Linked DNA regions of Homo sapiens: region 2 is linked to region 1. Evidence: fine-mapped expression QTL. A gene starts in region 1. The other region holds a variant in brackets. All regions are shown on one strand. Distances are from middle to middle. Region 1 holds the start of DCT (dopachrome tautomerase). Region 2 has its middle 3.4 kb from the start of TRF-GAA1-5.

What was found. PIP is the estimated chance that this variant, and not a neighbour inherited with it, causes the effect. A credible set is the group of variants that fine-mapping cannot tell apart.
Region 2: its variant is the best candidate, but not a certain one, in a credible set for the expression of DCT in hypothalamus (GTEx, PIP 0.65).

The regions. Positions count from the first base shown.
Region 1 is chr13:94,478,361-94,481,270 of GRCh38, forward strand. DCT (dopachrome tautomerase) reads right to left here and starts at 1,322. Exons shown (of 8, transcript NM_001922.5): 1 at 601-1,322. The coding sequence starts at 895.
Region 2 is chr13:94,544,881-94,547,790 of GRCh38, forward strand. It overlaps a transcript of DCT not described here. Among named protein-coding and RNA genes, the nearest start is that of TRF-GAA1-5, 3.4 kb to the right of the region's middle. The variant G/A (reference allele first, on the strand shown) is at 1,208.

The sequences.
Region 1 (2,910 bases):
CAGCTACTTGGGAGGCTGAGGCAGGAGAATCACTTGAACCCGGGAGATGGAGGTTGCAGTGAGCTGAGATAGCACCATTGCACTCCAGCCACGGTGACAAAGCGAGACTCCATCTCCAAAAAAAAGAGAGAGAGAGAGATCTGTTCAAATCATGAGAAATGCTGAGACCAGAACACCTGCCTTTGACTCCTGTCTTCCGAATGCCAAGCTTCACCCATCCCTTTTCAACAAGTGCAAACCCATTTCAGGAGAGGGCACCGAATCCATCTTGAAAGGACTTGCTCCGAGTTTCAAAGCTGACGCTTTTAAGCTCTTAAATTCCCCTTCCAACAAACAAGCCAATAGTATGTTGGCATGCATTCATATAAGCAGGCTTGGCCCACGCCATATTTATTTAGTCTTCATAACTAGATGTACTAGAGGGTGTGAAGAATAAACCAGCACATCAGCCTTATTGAATATGCTTCCGACCAAAACCATCATTGGTTTGCCTTTCAAAGCCTAATCTAAGAGTCTCTGTCAAGAGTCTCATCTCTTCCTTAGAAGGAGCTCTTTCCCCAGCTCTGGCCCTCCCCACCAAGCTTGGAGCATGGGCCTCACCTGTGCACTTGCAGGTCCGGTGGAAGAATTTTCTTGGCCACAGCTCACGGTCATCCTGGTTTCGTAGGATGTAGGGACCACTCCAGGGCCTTGTGTCGGCTCGCACCTCTGTGCACTGCCCCCGGCCTTGCTGAGAGCCACAGACATTGGCCGACTCTGCACCCAGGCGTGGGCAGCACTCCTTGTTCACTAGGCTGTCCACCGTCATGCAGACTCGGGGGAACTGACCCTGGGCTCCTGGCAGGATTTTGCAGCCCAAGCAACTGAGCAGAAACCCCCACCAAAGGGGGCTCATGGCTTTATAATTGGGAGAGCTCTCTCTCTCTCTTACTTTCCTTGTCTCTGTCGTACTTTTCTCCTTATCTTCTACTCTTTCAGTCTTTTCTTTTCAGTATTTTTTATTTTTCTTTGCTTTCTATTCCTTTCTTCTTAAAAAAATACCCACAAGAATCACAGAGGTTACATGTGTGCACATGTGTACATGAACGTGCACACACAATTTTATGTGATTCAAACAACTAACAGACTTAATTTCCTTAGAAGCGCCTCTAACAACCAAATTTAATGAGGGTAGCGCTTCTCACCATCTTCCCCCGTTAAGTCAGGCTTTGTCTAATTGAGTTAATTTACAGAGCACCCAGTCATACTACTTATTATGCTGGTATTTCTAAACCCTCTCCCTCCCTCCTTAGCTCTTGACTTTAATTGCCTTGAACTCAGTTCAAAAGCCAAACACCGTGCTGCTTTTATTCTCTCTGGCTTGCCAAGCCACGGGGCCTTGGGGGCTTGTGTAAGGGCTGGGAGAAGCCTTCATTAGGGGGATTAGTATTACAGAAACCCTCATCATTAGCACATGACCCAAAGTGCACAATAAAGGAGATCACTTCTGGCTTTATTTCAGGAGGGCAAAACCATCTTCTTTATCTGGGCTCATGTGCTCCAGCCAAACTTGTGACCTCAGACATCCTGGGGAGTCAGTAGATGCAGTGAGCTCTTCGTCAAAGACCCTTTACACAGAAGCTCACATTGCCAACTACAATGCACTCATGGCTGCTTTCTGACATGTGTGCAAAAAAGACCACAACAGGGGGTCATGCAACTTCAAAAATAAAGAAACATTTATGTAGAACCAGGGTACAAGGAATTGCTTTGTTCCACAATTGGGAATCCTCTTCCCTCCAAATAATAACTTACTCTTCTCCTATTCAGCACATCTACGCAGCAATTTTTTTTTAATTACATGAAGTAGCATGCCACCAGAAACTCACAATTGTCATTATCTGATTGTATGGAAGGCACTGGAACCATTTGGAATGAAGGCTTGCAAGCAAATCTTTTTGATTAGACTAAAGTGAAGCATGACTGAGCTTCAGTCTAGAAAGCAATGCCTCCTGGTGCTTCTGGAGAATGGTCAGGTCAGCAATGGTGGCCACCTGTCAGAACATCCATTTATTTTTTCACAGTGGAAACAGGACTGTCTTGGTAACTGTTTCACAGTGGAAACAGGACTTAGTGCCACAAGGATGCGAAACGGCTTCAGCTAGTTTCTAAGAATATACTTGAATGTAAAGACACATATTGTTATGTTTCAAAGCAAATTCCTAAGGTGAAACAATTATATAGGTATTCCCACCCCCTGTACCTCTGTGCCACCCCTTGATGTTAAGTTGTTGTGACTAATTAAATGGCAATTCTTATGTCTGACTCTACACCAATATCAGCCTGTACCACAGCCCTACTGAATCAGAATCTCTGAGGATGTTCCAGACACCAACCAACCTTTGTTAGAAAACATCTAGGCAATTCTAATGCTCAGCCAGAGTTGAGAATCACTGAATCAGAATACAGCAGAGCTCCAAAGGAAATATTGCATCAGCATCAGCTAAAAGAGACCATGTGCAATAGTTTCCTGAGGCTTCTGTAACAAATGACCACAAACTGGATGACTGAAAACAACAGAAATCTATTTTCTCACTGTTCTGAAGGCCAGAAGTCTAAAATGAAGGTGTTGGCAGGACTGGCGTGTGTCAGCCAGGCGGCTGCACTCTCCCTGGAGACTCTAGGCTAGAATCCTCCTTGCCTTTTCAAGCTTCTGGCAGCTGCTGTCAATCCTTGGCTTGAAACCGCAGCTCCAATGTCTGCCACAGCCCCATGGCCTTCTCCCCATCTGTCTGTGTTTTTCCTCCATGTCTGTTTCTTATAAGGACACTTATTGGATGTAGAGCCCACTCAGATAATCCAGGATGATCTCATCTCAAGATTCTTCACTCAATTACATCTGCAAAGAAGACTCTTTTTTCCAGACAAAGT
Region 2 (2,910 bases), 67 kb after region 1:
TGAATTACTAAATACTCATCTGGTTTTATTATGTATAACAATTATAGCAGCTCGGTCTCAAAAAAACAACAACAAAAAAATGTTTAATGATGATGGTGTTCTTTCCCACTGAAAGCATTCCTTCTCTAAAGTAAGTGGCGACCCTATTCTCCCACCCTTCACCCTTCATAGCCTCCTAAGTTATAAAGTGTGATCATGGCATCAGTGGGGTTCCCAGGAGATACCTGGTGTTCAGTCTTTCTCAGCCTTCACTCCCGGGAAGTGACAGTGTTTGACATCTATTAGAGCACATCACGCTTCAGATGATGATGATAAAAATGATCAGATTACATTTTTAGATGTTACCTCTTCAGGTAAAATATATATTATAAAACCAAAGATCCAAATGGGCCATGGTCAGACCATATATAAAAACAGAACTGTGACCATAACCTGCCCAGGAAACCAGCCCCTTATCTACAATAAACAGTCCAGCAAGCCCGTCTGCTAAAGCCAGACTTGCAAGAAGTCTGGGAAATAACAATCTGAGAAGCTAAACAATAACTTTTATAATAATTAATTCCAAATGACCAGGAATTGATTAATAACTGACAGCTTTCCTAGTTTTTGTCCTCATTTCCAACTTTAGGCCAACCACAAAAGGCGCCTTAAATAATCACATGGCTGCCGGCTCCCAGTTAGCTAACTCCAGCTTCCCAGACCAACAGCCTCCAATCAGGGCACACCTGAAGCTGTCCCTTGTGTCTGCTGTAAAGCTCTCCCACTCCCCTGCCTGCCTTTGAGTCTCTCCCAAATGCCAGTGATGGTGGCTGACTCCCTCGCTATAGCAAGCTCTGAATAAACAGCCTTTGCTTTCTCACATGGTGGTCTTCCTTCATTTCATATATATAAGCGGTGTGTGTATTTTTTTAATGCTGCCCACCTGCTTCCCGATCACTCCTCCCTGTCACAAGACCTGAAAAGCCTTCTCAACCAACAGGTGGAGGCCTGGCCTAACTCTTCCCCTTCACCCTCCCCTCCTCACACTTCTAATGACACAGATTTTCTCCTTGACCAAATGCTAGCCAGGCCTCTCTGAGCCCCCTTCTAGACCAGGCCTCAACCCCCTCAGAGTGCCTGCTTGAGAAAGCCCAAGACTGACAAAAGAATTCTATGCACCATCTGATGAAAGGCTTCTGGCACTTTCTTAGAGTACTTACTAAAAAGG[G/A]CTTACAATTGTGACTCCTTCCTCTGTGCCTTTGAGATGGCTGTGTATCTCCTACAAAGGCAATCAAGGACGTAAAAAACCATTCCTTTACAATGTAATCATCAGGAAGGATAGGGCCAGTGTCTCCCAGTCTCTGGAAGGACAGAATCCAGACTTTGATCATTGCCAGCTAGCAGACACAGCTGCCTAATCAGCATTTACATGCGTCAATCCTTTGTCAGTTTTCACCTTCCTGACTCTGCTGAAGCCCCACTGGTTCCTCTCCGTTAATCCCTCATTGTCCCTTAAAATGCCCAGTCACCTCTGTACAAATCAAAGTTCAGTTCACGCTGGACCCTCTTCCCTATTGCAATAGTACATTATGATTACCATCTGTCCTTACCACGTTACCTAGTGTCTGGTTTATCTTTGGTACTAACCAGGTGTGCGCCTCCATCCTTCCCCCACCCACACCAATAGCCAGTAGCTGGTCTTCCTGTTACAGTAGGGAGCTAGTCAGGCATGAGCACAGCAGGAGAGCCCCCCTCCCCACCAAGGAATGTCAGGAGACCAACAGGTGGTGGGCAAGTGGTTGTTACACTGTTTCCCTAAAACGGTAATTGGTCGCAGCCAGCCCTAGGGAAAGGCAGGCTCCAAACAGAAAAAACCTGAAACTGGTCATCATCAGTTTCCTGATAAGATCTTAGGAGTTGGGCGAGTAAGCTGAAGCATGCGCACTAAGAGGCAAAATGGCAGCATTTAACTGGTACATGACCTTCTAGGAACATTCAGCTGGTAAAGGAAGAATGCCTCAAGTGAGCATGGGTACAACGCCAGTAAACACACTGTGCATGCTTCCCTCCCAAGCACTAGCAGGCCACTGTGCATGCGACAGCCCACCCCAAGGGAAGAACTAGGGAAGAAGGGATGCAAGACCCCAGAAATGCCAGTGTATAAAACCCTAAGTCAGAGGTCAAACAGGGCTCTTGATCTCTCAATTTGCCCGCTTAGCCCTCTTCCAAGTGTACTTTACTTCCTTTCATTCCTGCTTCTAAACTTTTTTTTTTTAAGAGACAGTCTCACTCTGTTGCCCAGGCTGGAGCGCAGTGGCATAATCTCAGCTCACTGCAACTTCCACCTCCCCTGTTCAACGGATTCTCCTGCCTCAGCCTCCCGAGTAGCTGGGATTACAGGCTTGTACCACCACGCCCAGCTCATTTTTGTATTTTTAGTAGAGATGGGGTTTCACCATGTTGGCCAGGCTGGTCTCAAACTTCTGACCTCAAGTGATCCGCCCACCTCGGCCTGCCAAAGTGCTGGGATTACAGGCATGAGCCACCGTGCCTGACCCTGCTCTAAACTTTTTAAAAACTTTCACTCCCGCTGTAAAACTTGTGTTCATCTCTCACTCTGCCTTATGCCCTTCAGTCGAATTCTTTCTTCTGAGGAGGCAAGAATTGAGGTTGCTGCAGACCCGCATAGATTCACCATCACTAACATTACCTTGGGCAGAGTGCTCAGACCTCAGGTTGTCTGAAATGAAAGTCACTATCACCCCAGAACCTGCATCCTTTCCCTACTCTTTAGAAATGTGATAGCTGGTGGCACTCCTGTTAAATCTTTCCATACCTAAGAAATCTTGGCTGGGCACACTAGCTCATGCCTGTAATCCCAGCACTTTGGGAGGCCAAGGCGGGTGGATTACTTGAGGTCAGAAGTTCAAG